Linked DNA regions of Homo sapiens. The protein of the gene in region 2 purifies or fractionates together with the protein of the main gene of each other region. This does not show direct contact. Each region holds a gene or a part of one and is shown on either strand. Other genes may lie near its edges.

Region 1 (3,656 bases), on a different chromosome or scaffold from region 2:
TAACACGTACATTCAGACCTGACCACTCTGGCGGGGATCTAGGAATTTGAGGTTGCAGTGTATCGGCTCCAGTTAACACACTGTCTTCCTCACCTTTTGCACATGGAGCCTCTAGGGGGCCTGCTAGGGTGACCACCAATGAAGGCACCAAAGGGACAAATAACTCAATGGACTAATGACCCACTGTGGCCACTAGGCGTCAGTGTGAGCTTGCTTGGCTCACTAAAAAGGATGGGGTGTGGGCATCCCCAGTTGCTGCCCACACCCCCATGGTTCCCTGGGGAGAGACAATTTATTACACACCTACCAGGTAAGAATACTCCATGCTAGATGCTCTTCTGCTATATCTCATTTAATGCTCACAACCCCAGGAAGCAGGTCCAGGTCCACAATCCCTTATTTGAAACCCTTAGGACTAGATGCATTTCAGAATTTAGAATTTTTCACATTTAGAAAGGCAATGGTTGTGCATAGAGCGTTTACTGTGTAAGATCCCCAGCAGCATCTGGGCCACATCCCATAGTCACACATATGAATACATCTGCAGTGAAACTTAAGACTAAATTAAATAAAAGACTATGAAGAGCCTTGGTTCAGGCTGCACCATCGAACCACTTTTAGTTTGAATAAGGGACTGTAGGCCAGTATTTTATCTTTTGCAATATACAGTATACAGAACTGGAAACCGAGGCCCAGAGAGTGTAAACCATTGACTAATAACAGGCTGGTTTAGACCTGGGGACTGCCTGACTCCACAGCCAATGCTCTACCAGCCCTTAGTCCCCATGGTTCAATCCAGGGAATGAAAGATGTGAAGAAGGCAAGCGTTTGTCCTGGGGACCATAGGGGGACTCTTAGTTTGTGTTTCTCAAACTAAGAGTGTGCTTCTCAAACACACCCCTTCTTCCACCCCCCTGCTCCAGACTGCTCCCCCCAGCCCACTCACGGTGCACATCCAGCTCGATGGAAGTCTCCTTGCCACTAGGGATGGCTTCGTTCATGCTTCGGCAAGTGAAGACACGCCCTATGTCCAGGTCCGTGGGGTTAATAAGCAGTTGGCTCACGGTGGTCTCCCTCTTCCCATCCTTCAGCAATTCCTGGAACATGACAAGGGTGGGAGATATGGTTAAGCTAAAAGCCCCCTCCTCTGCTCTTAAGTTGACCTCACTCAGAGATGGGCTTGGGCTGGAGGGGTACTTTAACTTAAAGCTCAATCCCCTTCACTCCCACAACCTCTTCCCTTGTGTGTGTGTGTGTGTGTGTGTGTGTTTAATCAATAGACTACTAATTATCTTTTAATTAAAAGTTATATATTTTTAGGGTCTTGCTATGTTGCCCAGGCTGGCCTCCAAAGCTTGGACTCAAGCAATCCTCCTGCCTGAGCCTTCTGAGTAGCAGCGACTACAGGAGTGTGCCATCATGCCCACATCACAGACTATCTTTTGGAGCAGTTTTAAGTTTACAGAAAAATTGAGCAGAAAGTACAGGGAGTTTCCATATACCCTCCTCCCCGACCTTACACTTTCCCCCATTACTAACACCTTAACACCTTGCATTAGAGTGATAAGTCTGTTACAACTGATGGACCGAAACTAATATATTATTATTAAGGCCACAGTTTATATTAGAGTTCACTCTTTGTGAGTCCAGCGCAAATCCCTTCTCTTCTGGAAAGCCTTCTTCAGCCAGCCCAGCCCTCAGAACTCTCTCCCAGACTGAATTTATGCCCTTATAGTCAGTGTGTCCTGCTCACAGCTCTAGACACATCCAACCTTGCTTGTAGGCACCATGTGTGCGTGTTTCAGGGTTGGGTTTCTTCTGCTAAACTGTAAACTCCTTGAGGGCAGGGAAGGGACTCACAGGCTCGAAGTCTTACACTTGCTCAGTGACAGCCAGGGGTCCCTAAATATGGTCACAGGAACCCTTGATCTGTTTTCTATATTGCAAACTGCCTGAGGGAAGCCATATTATTAATCAAAGTAAGACCCCGTTGTTTGACCACCATGCATGCAGCTTTGCTGGACAGGCCCAGTTGAGGGCCAGTGCAATAACACTGGCTCCCTTGTGCTGCTTTGAAGCTCCATTGTCTTTAATGAATATGAAAAATGGGGGTAGATGACAAATGGATATTAACAAACCAACTTGTTTGGTTGCCAAAATATCTAAAAACATGTAGCCCTGATGAAGAAAAATCACAGTTTTTGGTTGTGAAAAGGTTAAGTACCACTGAGGCTGAATTATCATTTGTCAAATGAGAAACTAAGGCCAGAAAAAAGTGAAGCGAATTATCCAAGGTCACACAGTGTGTTAAGGGCAGAACTGAAGCCAGAAGCCAGGTATTCCTGGGATTGCTTGCTGAGGAGCATGGGAACATCTCTGTCTCCACACTGAGAAGTGCTCCTGCAGCACCAGCAAAGGGCTGAATACACATATGTTTACCCACAACTGGCAGGGTAACCCCAACCAGGAAATCTGGCTTTGAATTCCAGCTGTACTGTCCGCTTTGCTATGTAATCCTGGGCAAGTCACTTGATATCTTTCATGGCTTCCTCATCTATAAAATGTATACAAGGATCTCTGCTTCCCCAGCCTCTTTGTTGTGATGACTGGAATAATCTGACAACCAGACGCTGAAGGAAAGAGGTAGAAGTGATCAGTGGAGAGAAAGCACAGTCAGACCCAGGTACAAACCCCCGCTCTGTGCCAGCTGTGTGACCTTGGACAAGTCACTCAACCTCTCTGAGCGCAAGTTTCCTCCTTTGTGAGTTGGAAATAATGCCTCCTTTATGGGACTCCTATGAAGATTAAGAGAGACTGTCCATAAAGTGTTTAGCATGCACGGTGTCTGGCACACAGTAGGTGCTTAATCCATGGCAACTTATTATTACTATTAGTCTCTGTTCAGCTACTGAATGACACAGTAAACCTAGGAATTCATTTCTCTTCTCTGGGTTTCAATTTTCCCAACTGTAGAATGAGAGGGTTGAACCAGATGACCTCTAAGACCCCTCTCATGTCTGTGTGCTCCTGAGTCTGTGGTGAAACCCCTGTGGGAAAGGAGAGGTGAGCTGGGCTAGGCCCAGGAGGAGCTGGGGGAGCTGGCTGGAGCTCACCGTGCTGGCCACAGCGCCCTCCTGCTGCGTCCCGTCCCGGAACCAGATGATGGTGGCAGCAGGCTTCGCATTGAAGGCCCGGCATGTGAGGTTGTGGGGGGTGCCTGCCTGCAGTAGAATCACAGGGCCTCCGTCAATCCTGGTGTCCTCTGGGGGGACTGTGGGAGAAAGCAGAGCAAAGTCAGTGCAGGGTGTGGCTAACACTTCCCTGAAGACCAAAACTCCTGCCTCTGGAAGCATCCTTCCACCTGCATGTGCGCCTCTAGGTAGGCGGTACCACCCTACCCCCTAATCTACAACCACTGTCTTCATTGCTCTTGTGGTGGCTTCCTCTAGGTCCTCAGCTCACACATCTTTCCCAGTCCTTGTCTGCTTTTCTTTCCTGGCCTATAATATTTTCTGGTACTCCATGCCCCTACTGGTTTATTGTTTGTTTGTTTGTTTGTTTTTGAGATGGAGTGTCACTCTGTCGCCCAGGCTGGAGTGCAGTGGTGCCATCTCAGCTCACTGTAACCTCCACCTCCTGGGTTCAAGCGATTCTCC
Region 2 (3,656 bases):
TGTAAGAGGCTGGGGAAATTGCAATGTGTTGTGAAAGTAAGCAAAAGTTTTATTATTTATAGAGTTCTATGAAGTAACCTCCTATAAATAAAATGCCCAATGCTTTAGTAGCTGTATGATAGTTAAAACCTCCTATAAGTGAATGTATAAATTATTCACTTTCTTACTCCTGACATTAGATATGGATATTTTAAACCCCCTTCTACCACTTCCTCCAACATGTTCTAAAGAATACAGATTAAAAATATTTTTTAAACCCAGAATTATGTCAAATACGGGGGAAAGGCATAGAAAACAAATTTGCATACTATGTTTAGGAACAAGCTTCTTAGGTCAAAATGTCAATAGTGGGAGTTGCATATCATTACTGATACATCTTGCTGCAGTGAAATAAATGCTTTTGAAAAATCCTGTTTTTTGAGCCATGCCAAAATATGTTTGGCAGAACTGAGCTTGTTTTGGTCAATGCTTTCAAATTAACAGGACTCTTAAAAAGACCAGATGTTTCTGCTTGAACCGTAACTGATTTCTTGTACCCCTAGTGCGTATTTGTACTCAAACTCTCTTGCAGTTTTCCCCAAAGAAGTAAACAACTTGGTTGGAAGTTCAACCTAGTTAACATATAGTTAAACTCTTCATCCCAATAGAAATGCAGAACTCAGTGTTCTGAAAATCCCAGGATTGTTTTATTTCTAAACAGCATCTTAGAGAAAGTCCTTGTTCTTCATTTTTTTTTCCTTCCTCATTATTATTATTAGAGTAAATCTTATAATTTCTTGGATGTTTCTACTGGAGTTGATAAGACAAAAGAAATAAATCTAATAAACCATTTCATAGTTATGCAAACTTTCTATTTATTAAACATTTTTTGTTACTATAGCCACTTGGAGCATGGAGCATTTTTAAACAGACCCATATCAGCATCTCAGCTAGGGTTGGACTTTTATGTTGTCCACAAAATGCAATGTAAATTGGCATTTTAAAACCCACTTTCAAATAGGACGCAGATGCAAGCACTGAATTTTCATTTGATTAATGATTAAACATTTTGGTTTTTAGTTAGATATAATTTTGCCAATTTAATTATAGGGTAATGTCTGTAATAAAAACAAATATGTAATCTGATAAAGGAAGTCATATTGAGCAACTTGAAATGCTTAAAACAGCAATACTACAGTGCAGTCCACTTCTCTTAGCCTATGTGGAAACACTAACTCATTAAAATCCTATCAGTCTGATTCTTCAACTTGCTTCTCAGAGACCTGAGCAAAAGAATTTTGGTGACGGCAGGGAAATTAGATTCTACTGTGTGCTATATACCTTGGACCCCTGGAAGGTTTTACCCACCTCTGGGTGTTGTAAGTAGCCTGGCTTTGTACAACTGGGAAGACTTGCTTTTCCTGATTTCCATACTGTAATGTACAAAGGTTAGAAGACGAGCTCCCTCTTGAAGCCCAAGTTTTCCCAAGTTGAGACAAATTCTCTACTCTTGGTTACTACAGTTGTTGAACATTGAAAATAAATTCTCCTAAAATCCACATGTCTACACACCAATAAGTAAATTAGGCAGAATACATACTCACTTTTTCATCAACTAGGTGTGCAGCAGGCAGATAAAAATGGGTGTGTATTTATGCTGTAGTCTCCGACAAAAGAGTATGCTTGCTTAGAATTAGGTAAAATGTCCGTTTACCTGAAATAATTGCCACTTTTGGGTAGCCAGATGGTGAGCGCACCCGTGTTCAAAGTAGGGTACCTTAATTTAGATCCAGATGGTTGAATTGAAAGGGAAATATAGCCAAGATAAAGAACATTTTGTTCACTTTCAAAAGGGAGACTGTTTTTCTTTGACAAACTTTAATAGGGTCTATAACATGCCAAAGTGAGACGACATTAAAAATATGAGGTCCTTTTCTATAAAGGATTGTTTAGAGAGAAACTATAGTCTCCAAGTAAAATGGGAAAATAATAGTGGTAGTTCTCAAAGAGAATTGGGACCATCCTTTTGCAAAAATCTTGGGGAGAGAATGGAGGATTTTATCTCTGGGTAGGCATTTGCTCTACTGTGGTATTTGTGTGATCTGATGCCTTGTAATTTACTCAGAATGAATTAATACTCATGGTATTTAATACAAACAAGAAATTCACTACATTATTTTTAGATCGAAAGCAACTTCATTTCTCCCATTCACTTCGGTAAGAAGATAGCTTAACATGAGCAAGTAGGAGTATATTGCTTTTTGTCCCTCTATAGAGGACTGTGAACTGAAAAAAATCTTTGAGAACCATTTGTTTCTGTAAAAACTTTTTTCTGTGATTCCTTAATGGACTTAGCTCATTGTTTTTGTGTCAGGCTCACATAACCATATGGCAAAACTGAGTTCAGTGCTGGATTTTGAACACAATTCAAAATGCCACCAGTAAACCGTATCTAGACAATGTTTACTAAAAAAAAAGCTCTGACCATGTAATAATGACTCACTCAGGGAGAAAATCTATGCAATTGGTGTTTGTCTTTCTGTGTTTCCTGTAGTGCCATTTGATTTGATCACCCTGGATAATAATTAAATATACAGTTTTTTCAAATTAATTGACATAAAATTGTGTATATTTATCTTGTATAATCTAATGTTTTGAAGTATGCATACATTTGGAACAAATGTAGTTAATTAACAAATGCATCATCTCATATAGCTATTTTTGTGGTGAGAATGTTTAACATCTACTCTCAGCAGTTTTCAAGAATATAATATATTGTCATTAATTATAGTCACCTTGCTTTACAATAAGTCCCTTGAACTTATTCCTTTTTTCTAAGTAATTATATATCCTTTGACCAGTAACTCCTCAACTCCATTCTTCCCCTAACCTCTTATTATCTGGTAAACATTATTCTACTCTCTAATTCAGTGAGGTCAACTTTTTTAGTTTCCACATATTACTGAGATCATGCAATATTTGTCTTTTTGTGCCTGGCTTATTCACTTACATGAAGTCTTCCAGTTCATCCATGTTGTCTCAAATGACAGGATTTCCTTCTGTTTATGGCTGAATGGTATTTCATTAGTGTATGTATACATTTTCTTTATCCATCCATTCATTGATGAACTCTTAGGTTGGTTCTGTATCTCGGCTACTGTGAATAATGCTGCAATAAACATGTTGCAGATATCTCCTCAACATGATGATTTCTTTTTCTTTGGATATATAATCCACCAGTAGTGGGATTGCCAGATCATATGGTAGTTCTATTTTTAATTTTTTGATGAACCTCCATACTGTTTTCCATAATGGCTGTACTAATTTATAGTGTACTCATTTTCACCAACAGTGTACAAGGGTTCTTTTTGCTGCACATCCTTGCTAACAGTTGTTATCTTTTGTCTATTTGATAATAGCCATTCTTACAGGTGTGAGTTGACATCTCACTGTGGTTGCATTTCCCTGATGATAAGTCATGTTGAACATTTTTCATATACCGGTTGGCCATTTGTATGTCTTATTTTGAGAAATTTTCATTCAGGTCTTTTGCCCACTTTAAAAAATCAGATTTTGTTTTTTCTTGCTATTGAGTTGTTTGATTTCATTATATGTTTTGGTCATTAATCACTTATCAGATGTACAGACTGCGAATATTTTCTCCCATTCTATAGGTT
Region 3 (3,656 bases), about 16 Mb from region 2:
TCTCCATGTACATTTTGAATGAATTGGTTTTTTTTGAAAAAAAATTATGTTTTTAATAATCTTACTTAGCAACCAAGTGCATAGAAGAGCATAACTTTTTAGACTGACAGTCAGATTTTATTGATTTGAAATTAACAAGGGGAATCCCTAACTTGTAATAGCCAACTTAGGTTTTGTATTAAGGAAAGGGTAGAAGCAGCTCTGTCTTAGTTGCATTTTCTTCCCATCACCAAAATTGTTCTTTTCCTATTTAAATTAAAACTTGAAACTTACATTTTATAATAGTTACTTCTAATATCAAACTCTCAGGAACTTTCTTGTTTTTAGAGTTGATTGGTTATTGATGCCTTTGACACAAAGAAAACATCTTGGTTCTCAGCAAAAAAAAAAGTTTTCTGGCACCACATGTTAAAACTTCATTTATTTTCTCATGTATGTGTTATCATTTGTATTACTTTTGAGGAAAAATGTGTTTTTAAACTTCGTTTTGTAGCCTGGTCCAGAAAACTAATAGTAATTTGTAACATTTTTTCCTTTGGGGAAAGTACATTCTGAATTTAAGTTTTTGAGATAAAATCTGTTTGTAAGTTGGGGTTTTCTTTGTTCCGCCGTGCCTATTGAGTTTATTAGCAGGGTTGTATCTATAAATAACACCTGTCATGTATTAATTCATAAAGAACTATTCAACAATCTCTACATTAAAAAAATAATATTTTGGACAAACATTCATTCTAGAAGTGGTTTTAATGAGAATATTAATTGTTGTTCCTTTTATTTCTGTGCTGATACTATAGGAAAGAGTAGTATTATAAGAACAACTCTCATATCACTACTTAAATATTATTTGTACATATGTAAAAATAATTCTTTAAGCAAAATTACTTTTTAAAATTTTCTAACAGAAAATAGAACCACACTAGAAAGATTTATACAATGGTTTCTTAACTGGTCCTCAATTCTAAGTGTGTTCCTCAAAGTTATCTACAGGTCAGATTAATCCCTCCCACTCTACCTGTTCAGCTTTTTTTTAGTCCTTTTTCTGTTTGTTTGTTTGTTTGTGACAGAGTCTCACATTGTTACCCAGGCTGGAGTGCAGTGGTGTGATCTCGGCTAACTGCTACCTCTGCCTCCTGGGTTCAAGTAATTCTTGTTCCTCAGCCTCACTATTAGCTGGGACTACAGGCGCGTGCCACCATGCCTGGCAAATTTCTGTATTTTTAGTAGAGACAGAGTTTTGCCATGTTGGTCAGCTGGTCTCCAACTCCTGACCTCAAGTGATCTGCCCACCTCAGCCTCCCAAAGTGCTGGGATTACAGGAACGAGCCACCATGCCCAGCATTTTTCTTTTTTTTTTTTTCTTTTTTTTTTTTAAGAATGGTCGTATTATAAGAAGACATTGATGAGGACTAAATTAATATAAGAAGGGGTTACAGATTTTTAATATTTTGGTTTTTTGCATAGTGAGCCTTCTATTATACATTCAAATATTGGAATTTCTCTTACCACTACTATATGTCATTTTTTTCTTCTAATGCTGTTATTTTGTCACCTGACAAATTCATTAATCTTTCACTCTGGCTAGCTGCCCTTTTTCTGATGCAGTTTAGTCTGTCTCCTTTTTAAGATAAAGTCAAAGAATATATTTGCTCTGTCCTCCTTCCTGGATTCCTCCTGATAGGTTGCCCTCTGAAATCAGGCATAATTTTTTTCTTCTTAAATAATATTTGAAAATATATCAAGCCAAATATACTGAACTAAGGAGTTCAGATTTGAGGACAGTTTCAAAGAGTTGTTTTCGAAAGAGAGTTTTTTAAGAGTCTGAGTTAAGAGAAAAAAAAGCTGTATGTGGAAAGGCTTAAAACTTGGCAAAAATTGTATCTACAAACTGAGATGGTAATGTTGTAAGTAAAGCTTGTGTTTGATTTTTCCACAGAGGAGAATTGCTTTTAAAAATGAATAAACCTCTTAAAGCAAAGGAAGCATATCTTAAAGCACTAGAGCTGGACAGAAATAATGCAGATCTTTGGTACAACTTGGCAATTGTACATATTGAACTTAAAGAACCAAATGAAGCCCTAAAAAACTTTAATCGTGCTCTGGAACTAAATCCAAAGCATAAACTAGCATTATTCAACTCTGCTATAGTAATGCAAGAATCAGGTATGTTTTCTCAAAATATTTCTGTTTATATAAATTGTAGTTTATAATATAATAAGACCTTAATTTAACTTTATTACCCATAGCAAACACTTTATGTATTGACAGTTTATAGCAATACTGTGCTTAACTGATTTATAGAAAGAATATTTAAAATACTTGAAGTAAACTATTTTCAAGTAACATGCATTCTAACATATGATAATACTGATTTTTAATTCTTCTGGCATGTGTTAAGACTAATTTTTCAGGCAGTCTATTAAGCAACATTAACTATTTTGTCATTTTATATACATAAACATAATGTAACTTATATATAAACTCTCCAAATAATATGAACTTGTGAAATTTTTTACATAATTGGCTGTGAGGAGCCAAGAGCATATGTTTTCAAAAAAATAGCATTTTATTTTCTTTTGATTCATAAGAGCAAATACTTTTGGCACCATTTTATATCCAGTTTTACTACGTTTTCTGAGATGTTGTAATTTTTTATATTTCCTATAATTTAGCAAAACTAAATTATTAACCACAGTAAATCTGGATCCTTCATCCATATTTTATATAGGAATTTCAGTTCTGCCTCATAAGATAGTGTATATGATTTATAATCTTTTTAATTTATAAATTAGAAAAATCTATTATAATGTTTAGTTATTTCTTAGATACATTTCGTAAAACTTTTGTAAAATATGAAAGAATCATAAAGTCGTAGTATTTTAGAGCTAAAGAGGACCTTTGAGTTTGCATTTGCCAGTCTTCTATTTAGTAGAGTGAAAACCAAATAGATTTTATGACTGCCCCAAAGTCATATGGCTAAATAGGTAACCCAAGACAAGAACTGAAGCCTCCTGATTTATTTTCAAATTTTCTTTATCCATCGTGCTGCCAAATAAAAGAATAGAGAGAAGTCTTTATGCCTGGTGTCCAAAAAAGTAGAAATTTGGAGAAAAGCTAATATTTTTGTAAGGTTTTCTACCTTGATAATCATGAAGGATGCTCATTATTCGACACAAGATTGTACTATAAGGTTTGTAATTGTAGAACTTGAACTTTTTTGTTTTTTTGGCTTTTTTTTTGCAATAGAAATTATCTCAATGGAGATTTGTTTCCTGCCAGGCAGTGGCTGATGCCTGTAATCCTAACACTTAGGGAGGCCAGGGTGGGGAGGATCACTAGAGGCCAAGAGTTTGAGAATAGCCTAGGCAACATAGTAAAACTCTGTCTCCACAAAAAATTTTAAAATCAGCAAGAAATGATGGCACATGCCTGTAGTCCCAGCTACTCGGGAAGCCAAGGTGGGAGGATTGCTTGAGCCCAGGAGTTTGAGGTTACAGTGACCTGTGGACACAGCACTGCCCTCCAGCCTGAGTGACATAGTGAGACCCTGTCTCAAAAAAAAGAAGATACATGTTTCCTAAATCCTAATTTTATAGCCCTATATTTAATGGTATGTTTTTGTCCTCGAAACATTCCTAAAACTTTGAAGTAACATTTTT

The links.
Region 1: the proteins of TRHDE (region 2) and KIRREL1 purify together in Homo sapiens (affinity purification with mass spectrometry; one large-scale study listed by BioGRID and IntAct). This does not show direct contact.
Region 3: the proteins of TRHDE (region 2) and TMTC3 purify together in Homo sapiens (affinity purification with mass spectrometry; one large-scale study listed by BioGRID and IntAct). This does not show direct contact.

Annotation. Positions count from the first base shown.
Region 1 is NC_000001.11:158,084,037-158,087,692, reverse strand, and holds part of KIRREL1 (kin of IRRE-like protein 1 isoform 1 precursor), read right to left. Parts: intron 3,272-3,656; coding exon 3,114-3,271; intron 1,098-3,113; coding exon 947-1,097; intron 1-946. UniProt on the Homo sapiens protein: Required for proper function of the glomerular filtration barrier. It is involved in the maintenance of a stable podocyte architecture with interdigitating foot processes connected by specialized cell-cell junctions, known as the slit diaphragm.
Region 2 is NC_000012.12:72,275,238-72,278,893, forward strand, and holds part of TRHDE (thyrotropin-releasing hormone-degrading ectoenzyme), read left to right. Parts: intron 1-3,656. UniProt on the Homo sapiens protein: Specific inactivation of TRH after its release.
Region 3 is NC_000012.12:88,190,671-88,194,326, forward strand, and holds part of TMTC3 (protein O-mannosyl-transferase TMTC3), read left to right. Parts: intron 1-1,933; coding exon 1,934-2,160; intron 2,161-3,656. UniProt on the Homo sapiens protein: Transfers mannosyl residues to the hydroxyl group of serine or threonine residues.